Linked DNA regions of Homo sapiens: all the other regions are linked to region 3. The links come from fine-mapping of genetic effects on gene expression. A gene starts in region 3. Each other region holds a variant in brackets. All regions are shown on one strand. Distances are from middle to middle.

What was found. PIP is the estimated chance that this variant, and not a neighbour inherited with it, causes the effect.
Region 1: its variant is the best candidate, but not a certain one, in a credible set for the expression of ELK3 in neutrophils (BLUEPRINT, PIP 0.52).
Region 2: its variant is the best candidate, but not a certain one, in a credible set for the expression of ELK3 in whole blood (TOPMed, PIP 0.57).

The regions. Positions count from the first base shown.
Region 1 is chr12:96,093,736-96,097,977 of GRCh38, reverse strand. LOC105369923 (a long non-coding RNA gene) reads right to left here and starts at 1,935. Exons shown (of 3, transcript XR_945238.2): 1 at 1,646-1,935. The variant G/A (reference allele first, on the strand shown) is at 2,184.
Region 2 is chr12:96,220,961-96,225,202 of GRCh38, reverse strand. ELK3 (ETS transcription factor ELK3) reads right to left here. Exons shown (of 5, transcript NM_005230.4): 2 at 1,430-1,638. The coding sequence starts at 1,636. Among named protein-coding and RNA genes, the nearest start is that of ELK3, 29 kb to the right of the region's middle. RefSeq lists an enhancer at 1,180-1,229. The variant G/A (reference allele first, on the strand shown) is at 1,677.
Region 3 is chr12:96,191,875-96,196,116 of GRCh38, reverse strand. It overlaps ELK3 (ETS transcription factor ELK3), which reads right to left and starts at 1,742. Exons shown (of 5, transcript NM_005230.4): 1 at 1,412-1,742. RefSeq lists an enhancer at 367-446 and a silencer at 1,778-1,917.

The DNA of each region.
Region 1 (4,242 bases), 98 kb after region 3:
GGTCATAGGACCATCCCTGAACCAGTTACTGCAGCCATGGCACCCAGTGGACCATAACTGGTTGAAGTCAATCAAGACCTACCCCTGGCCTGGAAATCAAGTACTTTATCCACCACAGTATACTGTTTATTTGATTTCTGACATGGAATTTTCTGGAGTCATTAAAAATACCAAATATAGTTTAATGGAGCAATAAAGTAAATGGCAACTACATTTTCCCAATTGCTCAAGTCAGAATCTTGAAATCAGGCAGGGTGTGGTGGCTCACGCCTGTAATCCCAACACTTTGGGAGGCCAAGGTGGGTGGATCACCTGATGTCAGGATTTCAAGAACAGCCTGGTCAACATGGTGAAACCCCACGTATTTTGTATTGTGTAAAAATACAAAAATTAGCCGGGAGTGGCGGCGCACACCTGTAATTCTAGCTACTTGGGAGGCTGAGGCAGGAGAATCGCTTGAACGCCGGAGGCGGAGGTGCAGTGAGCTGAGATCATGCTTGGACAACAAAAGTGAAACTCCGTCTCAATTAAAAAAAAAAAAATCTTGAAATCATTCTTGACTCCTTTATTTCTCACATTCCACTCCCATATCCAACCTATCATCAAAATCAATTAGCTCTACCACAAAAAATATCTAGAATCTGATCCCTTCTCACTTAACCACTACTGTCTCTTATCTACAGAGAAGCCAAAGTAATCCTTTTAAATAGTAAGTCATACCATGTCACTCCTAAGCTCAAAGGCCCTCAGTGACTCTCATATCAATCCAAAGAAAAGCAAAAAGCAAAAAGCAAGACTCTTCATGCTGTGGCCTGTTACCTCTCCACTCTCATCTCCTACTACTCCCATCTTGCTCACTCTGCTTCAGCCAGACTGGCTTCTTGCTAGATCCCCAAAAATATCCAGCATGCCCCTGCCTTAAGGCCTTTGTATGTGCTGTTCCCTTGGCCTGAACACCTTTCTTTCCAATATCCGCTGGGCTCATCCCCTTTGTTCAAAAATGACATTATCAGAAAGGCCCTGCATGACCAGTCAGCGTGAAAACACACCCAGCCAATCTTTAAGTCTCATACCTTGCTTTATTTTCATAGCACTTACCATTACCTAAAATATTTAAGTATTTGTGTACACGTCATTTTTCTCCCCTCCTGAATGAAAGTTCACGACAGCAAAATTATTCACTAGTACAGCCCCAATATCTAGAACAGTGAAGGCATTCAACATATAGTTACTGAAAGTGAATGAAAGCTTTAGAGCAAATAATATACGAAAGAGGAAATAGCTAACAACAGATGAAAAATGTTCAGTTTTTCCAATAAGCAAAGAAATACAAATTAAAATATAGCCAAGACAATATTTTTGCCTATTAAGTTGGCAAGAACTATCAAGTAATAAATCCATTGCTGTTGATAAGCATTGAAATTGGTATTTTCATGTAATTTTGGTGGCCAGTCTCATTAATTCATTTAAGAGATATTTATTGGGTACCTACTATATATACACTGTGCAATTTGCCAATATATACTCTAATGTGTCATAAGGCTCAGAGTCTCTGTATTAGTCAGGAAAGACTAGGTTACCAGTGGTAACAAATTAACCCCAGAATCCTAGTAGTTTACTGTAACAAAAGTTCCAACATACCCACCTCAGGTTGGTGAACAGGGAGGGTTGTTCTGTGTCACTCAGGGACTCTACCATCTGGAATGTCATTGGTCACCCTTGCAGAAAACAGGAGAGATTGGCAAATCATGCATAGGCTTTCTATAGCCACATCCAGGAAATTCACACATCACTTCCATTCACAATGAAGTGTGCTTCATTGTCCAGAGCTATTCATATGACCCTACCCAATGGCAAGGAGGCTGAGAAGTGAAGCCTCCTTTCTGCATGCCCAAAAGGAGCAGAGAAACACAGATGTTGGTAAATACTAATAATGTCTGCTATAGTCCTTGACCAAGAAATCTTACCACTCTACTAAAATAACCTAAAGTACATAAAAGGCCTCATTAAGGAAAATATTCATTGATGTTTTATTTATTATTTTGATAGCCCAAAAGAATCTTATTGGATAATGAGGAAATGAGTAATGGAATTATGGTTTATCCATATGCAATAAATTATTGTGCAGTCATAAAAATAGTAGTTAATGAAGAATCTATATATGGAAAAATAATTTTAACAAA[G/A]GAGTAAGTAAAAATTAGGAAACAAATAAAATGGGTATTATGATCACAAGGCCATAAAAATATACCTGATTTTAAAAAGTCTGAGGAAATACACTGAAATGTTTTCATTCAACAAATACCTGCTAGGCGCTAGGCCCTGCAGATTCAAAGATTAAATACACTATCTTTGTTCTAGAGGTGCTACAATCTTATAAGAATATCCAAAATGAGCCAAAAGAAATCCTTGCCTAAACCCAGAACAGTTATTCTAATAATTTTATGGTTGTACATAAGGATACACTTTCATGCCGTCATGATTTGAATCACTCAGAGAATGAGAGGCAGAGAGTCATCATTCATTCCATAGATAGTTATCAAACATGTCCTAAGTGGGTCACAGAGTTGATCAAGACACCATACCATGCTCACTGACCCCAGAAGGCTTAGAGTCTAGCTGGAATCCTACATGTCAAACAGGCTGGTCCTTGCTGGCCTCAGCTTCTGGCCTGATGAACTCCTTTACATAATGCTCTGTATCAGACCTATGAAAGTTCCTGGTGCCTAAAATAGTTCCTGGCATATAGTTTATAGTTTGGTGTCCAGTAAATTCTGGTGTTTTCCCCAAACCAACTCTACCTATAGGCTTTCCATTTCAGTTGATGGTATCTACATCCTTCAATGCTCAGGTCAAAAATATGGAGTCATTCTCAACACCTCTCTTTCTCTCACACCCTACAAATCTTTTTCAGAAAACCTTATAGCTCCCGCCTTCTGAAATATATCACAGAATCAGACCACTTTTCACTCCTCCACTGCCACCTCCATCTTTCGCCATTAGTGCCGCAGCCTCCTACCTGGTCTCCAGGCTTCTCCCCTGGCCCCTGCATTCTGTTCTCCATACGGCAGGCATGAAGAGCTGTTTAAATCCTAAGTCTGACCCCACCACTCCTCTGCTCAACTCTACTCAAACAACTCAGCTTAAAGAGTGAAATTTAGAGTTCTCACAATGACCTTTATGGTCCCTCTCTGGAGTCTCAGCTTTGTTAGATGCAAGTTAGCAGCTGTTAGTAGCAACATGGTATAACACCGCCTTTGCAATCCAGAATTGGAATTCAGAGATAATATGACCTCCCTCCATGCACAATTTTTAAGAGTCATATCTAAAATACAAAGCAGAAATAAAAAGAAAGCCCACAATAAGAGATGCATTTTAATATGTAAACATTCAGGCACAACTACAGTAGAAGACAAAAACATCTCCGTGAATTTCACAAACACCCACTATCAGATGGCACCACCCCATTGAAAACCACTGCCCTTTACCATCTGGGCTGGCTTCCTCTCTCTAAACTAAACACCAGCCCTCAGGCAGTTCACTCACTCTGCTCCAGCCACACCTGCTTCCCTGCTGTTTTGGACCAGTAAGTCACCTTCCTGTCTGGAGTCTTTGCAATTGCAGGATTCCCTCAGGGAGCCACGTGGCTCACTCCCTCCGCCTTCAGGTCTTTGCTCAAACATTCTTTTCTCAGAGAAGCCTTCCCTGACCACTCTCTTTAAAATAACGACCTTCCTCTCCCCAGACAGCACTCCTTCTCACCTCTCCCTGCTTATTTTTCTCCATACGCTTATTGTCTGACATACTAGATATTTTATTTATGATGTTGTCTGTGTCCACTCCATGAGGTCACTGATTTTTCCTGTTTGTCTTCTACTATATCCCTATTATGTAAATGAGTGCTTGGCACAAGGTGAGCGTTCAATAAATATTTGTTGAATGAATGAAAACAGTGAACAAGGGATATGTATTGAGTGACTGACTGAATGAATTGCTACAGACACCCAGCAATCATGGCATTAGTCCTGAACGCCTGGCCTCTGCTCCTCTGTACCTCACTCCTTGCCAAACTTGTTCTGTCCCACATGCTTGTTGCTTTCCACTGTATACATTCTTCATTTCCCAATTTGAAGCTCGACCTGGCTTCTTCCAACCTTGACTTCACATTATGAATTTTGTCTCACCCCCAGGCATGATGAAATTGTGACAGCTTCCTAGCAACACCCAACTTGACCTCCTTCCTGC
Region 2 (4,242 bases), 29 kb before region 3:
GCCAGCAGGCAACGGGAGTGTTTTCCTTCAGCGGCCCCAGTTCCCACTGCAGAATTTAGAACCTGGGAAAACACGCAAAACAATAAGCCATCTGCGAGGCTTTCAGACAGTGCAATTTGCAAGAAGTGCTTTTATATCTTAGTAGGACTCTGCAGTAAGTCAGGATTAATTAATTGCTACGTTAAAGGAGAGCACCTTTAGCATTTCAATGACACAATCACGTGCAATTACGATCACATAAAGGAACACTTTATAATTAATGATGTCTCTACTTCCTGAAACGTATAATCCTTATGTCTTGAATTCCAAAGGGGTTGGCAGACGGCATACCCTAAATATAGATCAGGAACTAATATTTAAATCAGTTTTTAATTCACCTTTTAATATGAACAATAAAACCAGAACAAAAGCTTACCATTATCATGGCTCTATGCCTTTATGTCTTAGAGGCTAAATATTCAGCAACAACAGATTCAAACTGAAATGGCTAACAATTAAGGCCTGAAATGGTTCTCCTAAACAGCAATAATTTTGCCCTAGCAAGCACATTAAAACTGCTTTTCCAGAAATGCATTAAAACTCACTCCAACTGTCCTGGTTTTGGCAACTACGCTATATTATCACTTATCAAGGCACTCTGCCTCATCTCTATGACTTAAAAATGAACATGTTTTTTCTTCCAATTAGGGAAGTTTCCCATGAAGTTGCAAGCACCACATACCAAGCAGTGTTCTAAGTACTTATATGTAATGGCTCGGTCGGTCATCACCACAATCCTGAGACAGGATTCCTACTCCTATTAGCAGTGTTCTAAGTACTTACACGTAATGGCTCGGTTGGTCATCACAATCCTGAGACAGGATTCCTACTCCTATTAGCAGCGTTCTAAGTACTTACATGTAATGGCTCGGTCGGTCATCACCACAATCCTGAGACAGGATTCCTATTCCTATTATTATTCCTATGCTGATTCCTGTTTTATAAACGAGGATACTGAGGCACTGAATTGTTAAAAAATAATCTGCCAAAGCTACCACCTTCCAGGAAAGGTCCCTTTAATTGAACCACAAACCAGACAGGATAAACAGACTTTCCGGATTTTAACACGCATTGTGTCATTCAAGCAATTCAACATGAGGAAAGCCCCAGAGCCTGCCTGCATCTCATTTGTATTGTGAGCAAAGTTCTTCAGCAAACTCAGACGAAAATGCAGAAGAAACAAAATGTGACCCTCAGTAATATCCAAAGGGCGTCCAGAGGGTGGGGAAAATCCCTACAGCACAGCTTTTCTCCAAAAAGAAGGTATGCACTGCCCCTATTTTATTTTCTAACTTGATTCATAGCACGCTATTATTTTCTTTCATCAGTGAACTACGCAGAGGGGATTCCACCCTCCCCAAGACGGCCCCATGCAAGGTCAAGGGTTTACCTTGTCATAATAGTATCGCAGGGCTCTGCTCAGCTTATCATAGTTCATATTTGTTTTGTTTTTTCGGAGTCCCCACAGCTTGGCCACTTCTTCTGCTTTGAGGAGCTTGAATTCACCATCGTTCGAGGTCCAGCAGATCAAATGCTCATGTTTCTGATCCAGCAGCAACTGCAACAGGAACTGCCACAGCGTGATTGCACTCTCCATACCTGCAGGGAGAGGAGGCCAGGTCAGAGCTGCTGGTCAC[G/A]ATGCCGACCAAACTTGGCGAGGAGAGAGGGGGCTTCAGAATGGGCAACTCAGCTGTCCCCTCCTTCCCCCAGTGAACCTAATAAAAAGTAGCTTTCACTTCCATCTCAAGGGGCCACTCTGAACCAGGAGCTTCCTGGCTGCATTTCTGTAAGGAGCCACAATTCAGAAATACAGGGAGGCCCTGTGATCCTCCTCTATTCACCACATGTCCCCACGAGTGACAGCGATGCATGGGGAATGATGCAGAACAATGATTAATGACATGACCACTTGCAGAATGAGTCCCCATTCAAACCATTCCCCACTTAACACAAGTGTCTATTCCCGCCCATCCCATCAATTTCTTTGTGGGTCCGTGATATAGTTTGGATGTGTGCCCCGCCCAAATCTCATGTTGAATTGTAATCCCCAACGTTGGAGGTGGGGCCTGGTGGGAAGTGACTGGATCCTAAGGGTGGATTTCTCATGAATGGTTTAGCACCATCTCCCTTGGTACCATCCTTGAGTTAGTGACTGAGTTCTCATGAGATCTGGTCATTTAACAGTGTGTGGCACCTTGACCCTCGCTTTCTTGCTCTTGCTCCGGCCATGTGACACGCCTGCTCCCCTTTTGCCTTCTGCCATGATTGCAGGTTTCCTGAGGCCTCCCCAGAAACCCAGCAGATGCCAGCATCATGCTTCCTGTACAGCCTGCAGAACTGTGAGCCCATTAAACCGCTTTTCTTTATAAATTATACAGTCTGGGGTATTTCTCTATAGCAATGTGAGAAAGAACTAATATAGTCGGTCTCTAACTAAAATGCTGGACCCCATACTTTATACAGGTGCCTGGAATATCTCTCCTGTGGTTGTGGTATATGTCTAAGTGTAACTGCCTTTCCTACTGTGATGAGCTTCACGAGGAAAGGACTTTGCTGGATTATTTTGTATTGCCAGCACTCTGATAACCCATACAATGCTCAAAGCTGCCCAGTCCGTGGATGCTTGTGAAACCGAACAATCACTGCCAATTGCAGAGACCTTCCCTTTCCCGGCACTCACCATGCTGCAGGTCAAAGCCCACCATCACAGATGCACAGATGGGAAAAGCAATTTCTCCCATGAAGAGACAAAAACCTATATATACAATGTTATCCTTTTCCTTCAACTCTGGTGTGAACTTTTTAAATGCTATTTCTTCTGGCTAAAATGCTGTTCCTTAGCTTTGGAGCCTGGTGAACTCTTTCTCATCCATTGTGACCCAGCTCAAATAGGGCCTTCTCAAGGAAGTTTTTCCCCACTCCTGGGCAGTTTCTCAATTTCAGGCCTTTGAGGACTTTCATGACAATAGGTATTGATTCTAAGTAGTAATAATAATAATAATCCATTTGTGTTATCAATCCTCATTACATTTAAAAAAAGGTGGTTAGACTGGCCTCAAAAGCTTTGCCACGGATCAACTGTTGTGAGTGGCACAGAGAGCTAGGGATCATCCCCTTGGATAGGAGGGAGACACTGAAGTCCTGGTGGGCGGGGGGCAGGGGACTGAACCTGGAGTGACCGCAACCCAGGGGGCAGCTCTGGGAGACCTGGAAGCCAGAATAATTGCCTTGGGGAGGGTTATTTGTACCAATATTGTCAACCCCACAACTCCTCTCAATTAAAGGAAAGTAGACTAGGAGTGCTCTCCAATTACCCACAGGGCATTTTATTTAGGGCTCTTTAAAGGGGATATTCTTTACAGAAATCAGTATTAACCACAATGGTCTGTAAGACAGTCATTTCACTGCTGGGTCAAAACCACCTCTGCATCTCACAAATCTTGCAAGCCCCCACTTTGCTGGGATGCATGGCAGCTGACGAGTCCCAACTCCTCCTATGAACCACCCTTCTGATGACTTGGATATGAGCCACAACTTTCTTCTCTTCACTGGCACTAAGAACGGCTAACAGTTGTCGCAAATTCTTGAGATTTTCTTGGCCAAACATGTCAGTCAGTCAGCTTTAACATATCTTTGAAACTTTAAGTGCCTGCTCAGATGAATCTGCTCCTGAGGGCAGAAGGCTGCCGGTGGGTTTGGAGGTCTGCAGGGAAGGGACTGTGGGGCCTCTGCTCACATGCCAGGTGGGAAAGTGGTCGGCCACCGCCACCCCCCACTTTTAACTGACATCACGTTCCGAATGGGACAGGAGGGCAGCAGAAACATCTATCCATGTATTTTACTACACTTAGCATTTCCACCTGCCTGGCCTCCTCGGAGCTTCTTGTGCATCACAGAATCACTTTTCATTGCAATCCAACCCCATGTGTCAGAGACCATGTTCTGGGCATGACTTATGAGAACCCATATGGCAGACTTGTTAAATGTTCTCAACTGCCCTCTCCTTAGGTGACTGTGTAGCCCTGCACTGGAGTGGCTGTGGGAGGAGTGCTGACATTGGGGCTTTGCCATGTGATTGCATTTGGCCAGGAGACTGACACGGGAAAGTGACAGCATCCCATTGCCGAGTTGGGGTCTTGGAGGCATCATAAGTTGGCACTTTTCCTCCTGTGCTATGCTGCCAGGAAGCTGCTGCCCCAGAAT
Region 3 (4,242 bases):
TGCAGACATTACTTAGCAATGACTAAGGGGGCTCTCTCTTCCTGCAGCAGCCAGTGGAAAATTCAAGGAACTTTTTCCCCCTGCAGCAGCAGAATCCCTTTAACCCTCTCCGCAGCCAACTCCAAAAACAACTCAGCCTCCCCTTTCCCCGCCACCCCCAGGCTGGAGGACTGGGGTGGGGGTAGTTAAAGACCGGCCAGGGGCTTTCAAATGAGGGAGGGTGGGAGGGGGCTGGCGGGGAAGGGGCGGGGGACCCCTCGAACACTACAAAGGAAACTGTAAAAGGCACAAATACATAAACCTAAGAAGGAGCAAACCACAGTTTCTTTGTGAGCTCCTCTAGTGAGTCATTTTCAAGATGCTGTCTGCTGCCAGTTTCAAAGCGGAAGCGCATGGCAATTAGTCTTGCCGTTTCCAGACAAGCCAGAAACTCTCCCGACACTCGTTTTTTTTTCTTTCTAAAAAGCCCCTTTTGCAGTTTCTGAAATAACATTTCTTGCTTCCACCTCCACCCGCCGCCTAACTGCAGCTTGTCCCTAGGATGATTCGGTTCAGAAAAGATAACAAAACCAAGACCTTTTATTTTTGCTTTTTAACTACTCCAAAATCTTAATCCCGCCTCCCCAAAAGTTACAGTAGCGTCACAGGCCAACGTTGAGTTCGAAGGTAAACAGGGATGGGGAGTGGAAGGGGCCCCAAGATCATTTCTTGCCTGGTCCTTCTCCAAAACCATGCCCAATAGAGACCACCGGCTTTTAAATGTCCGATGGGGCGTGCGCCTGGGGCGGTGACCTGGGCGGGGGTCACCTGCCAAGCGAGAGTGGACGCAGCCCCCAGCCCCACACCTTCGCGACCCATGTCCTCCACCGCCCTCTCCATCCCTGTCTTCCTCCCTGGATCCGAGCACCAGTGCACTTTGCCCACTCGAGGGGAGCCTGACTGCGGTCCCAGCTGGAAGGTCGGCGGTGGTCCAGCCTCCAGGCACTCAGCCTGCTCCTGCCACGGTTCTTCCCAGGGACCCGAAGTCTCGCCGTCCCCCGCTCCCCGCGCTGCCTGCAGCGGGGCCCTGGGCGAGCTCCCAGGGTTGCACGCCCGGCGCCCCTTCCTCTGGGGTCGCAGCGCAGCCCCAGGGAGGGGAGCCGCGGGCGCAGGGTCCCCGCAGCCCCGGGCCCGGCGCGAGCTCGGGCGACGGCGGTGGCAGCGACGCGGGCGCAGGAGCATCCGCGGCGCCCCCTCCCCGCGGCCGGCCCTCCCGCGCGGACGCACCGCCACCCCCACCCCGGCCCGCAGCCCACCCCGCGGCGCCCCCCGCCCCACCCCCACCGCGCCCAAGAAAAGAAAGAAAAAAAGAAAACACCCCCAAACAAACTTTTTAAGTGTCCGAGCAACAGGCAGAAGCCCTGTTACCTACCCAGATGTGGGGGAGTCTTCTTCGGGGGGAATTTCTAGGAGGACCCGGGCGAAAGCCCCCGACTTTCCATGCTGACAGGCGTCTGCAGACGGTCTGTGGCTCTTGTAATGAGATCCTGATTTTTCCCCCTTTTTTTCTTTCTCTCGCTCCTCTTTTTTTTTCCCCTCTGGTGTGTGTGAGAGCAGGAAGTTGGAGCAGTCAGGCCGAGCCGGCTCACTTCCTTTACTGCATTATTCCCCAGGCGGTGTGCAGTCTGTGTAAACAGGCTTTTCCGCCCCGCGCCGCGCGCCCCGGCCGCGGCTGTGCGCCGGGGCTGGCCGCCCAGGCCCGCGCCTCCCCCGCCGCCCCGGCCCCGTGCGCGCCCCGCACCGCCCCCACCCGCCCCGCTTCCTGCGCGGCCACCCCGGGGAGGAGCCTCCGACCCGCGGCGACTCCGCGCGGCCGCAGCCCCTCCCCACGGGGAGGGGGGTCCGCCCGCAACCCGCAGAAGCCGCCGCGCTTCCCGGGACACCGGGGATCCCTCCTCACCTCAACCCCTGGGGGTCGAGCGCGCGGGGCACCACGACGGGGTCGTGCCCTGCGCAGTTGGCCCGGGAGGGGGGTCCCGAGGTGGGGAGGCGGCTGGACTCGCTGTTTCCCATCCGCTGGGATGGAAGAGTTGGGGGGCAGAGGGGAATCGAGAGTGGGGTTCAGGGTTTGGTTGCTCTGGGCAAAGGACTGCTTTTCTTGTGGGTGCGGGCACAGTTTCCGTCTGGGGTTGGAGATGGACACCGTTCCTGTCTGGGTTTTCGGTGTTTTAAAAGCCAGCCCTCGGCCGGGCGTGCTGGCTCACGCCTGTAATCTGAGCACTTTGGGAGGCCAAGGCGGATGGATCACCTAAGGTCAGGAGTTCGAGACCAGCCTGGCCAACACGGCGAATCCCCGTCTGTACTAAAAATACCAAAACAACAACAACAAAAACAGCCAGGTGTGGTGGTGGGTCCCTATAATCCCAGCTACTTGGCAGGCTGAGGCGAGAGAATCGCTTGAACCTGGGAGGCAGAGGTTGCAGTGAGCTGAGATCGCCCCATTGCACTCCAACCTGGGCAACCAGCGAAACTCCGTCTCAAAAAAATAAAAAAGCCAGCCCTCAGTTGGGGGGCGAGCCTGTGGGGAAAGGATAAGGAGCCACAACACTGGAAGTCATGGAAATAATGCCCGCAGGGTCAGAGACTGAGGCTTGAAGGGAGCCTCTGTGGTCTCAGAACTGGTCTTCACACCTCCACATCCCTCAAGGAGGTCCTGCCTCTGAGGGCTCAGGCCAGGCTCTGATGGGAGAGCCTGCCCATTGCCCTAGGCTGAGACAAGGTTGGGGGGGATGGCTGTTGAAGAGCCTCTCCCTTCCCAGGCCTGCGCCCCAACCTCACTGCTCACCTTCCAGAACCTTCCATTCCCATGCCGCCACTTAGCAGCCCAGACCCCTGGTTTTCAAACTTGACCCAAGGGGCTTGTTAAACCACTAGTGGCTGGGCCTCTCCTGGAGTCCCAGATTCAGTAGGTCGGGGGTGGTTCCGGGCCCCGGCTAATGTCAGAATCACCTGGGGAGTGTTTTGACACTCTCCAACAATATACTCAACCCAGGCCAATTAAGTCAGATTCTCTGGGGGCCGGGTGTGAGTCCTTTCAAAAGGACCACATTCTAAGAGTTCCTCCACTACGTTTGTTTCTAGTTTTGCAGTCTCTCCTGAAAGATTATTTTGTTTACAAATTTCTCACTGCCATCAACTGTGAGCTGCTAAAGGGCACGGGGTATGTTTTACTGATTAGTACCACATCCCAGCTCCAAGTGCCTATCAGAGCACACAGGTGATAGGAATTTCCTTCGGGCATTTGCTTCAGGGCTCCTGTGGGTAGTCCACTGGAAAGGGTGGGAGAATGCCCTCCAGACCTCTGAGAAGGAGTGGGAAACCCGTGGGGTGTAGGGTGGGGGCACGGTAGGAGAGTGGGGCAGAAGGAGAAGATATGGAAAAGAGGGCTGCTTATCAACCCCTGATTTCCCACAGCTAATTTTCCAATTAGGGTATTATTGTTTTAATCCCCAGTCATCTTCTTCTGTCACTCAGTAGAACACCTATGGTGTCCCTATATGATCCAGCTGTTGGACTGAGAGAATGTAAACTTATTATCCTCAGGGAAAAAAAAAAAATCCACACAGTTAAGAACTCATGTTGCTTTGCTTTAGGAGATATATGCCTGAAAGAAACCGGTCTGAAAAGGCTATGTTCTGTATGATTCCAAACTATATGACATTTTGTAAAAGGCACTATGGAGATAGTACAAAAGATCAGTGGTTGTCAGGGGTTAGCAGGGAGGGAGGGGTGGACAGGAGGAGCACAGAGGGCAAGGAAACTACTACTCGGTATGATACTATAATGGTGGACACATTTGTTAAGACCCACAGAATATACAACACCAAGAATGAACTCTAATGTAAACCATGGACTTTGGGTGATAGTGATGTGTCAATGTAGATTCAATTACAACAAAGGTACCACTCTGGTGGGGGATGTTGATGATTGGGGAAGCTGTACACGTGTCAGGGCAGGAGGTATATGGGAAACCGCTGTGCCTCCTTCTCAGTTTTGCTGTGAGTCTAAAATCACTTTAGGGTTGGGCATAGTGGCTCACGCCTGTAATCCCAACACTTTGGGAGGCCGAGGTGGATGGATCACCTGAGGTCAGAAGTTCGAGACCAGCCTGGTCAACATGGTGAACCCCCATCTCTACTAATAATACAAAACTTAGCCAGGTATGGTGGCAGATGCCTGTAATTCCAGCTACTCAGGAGGCTG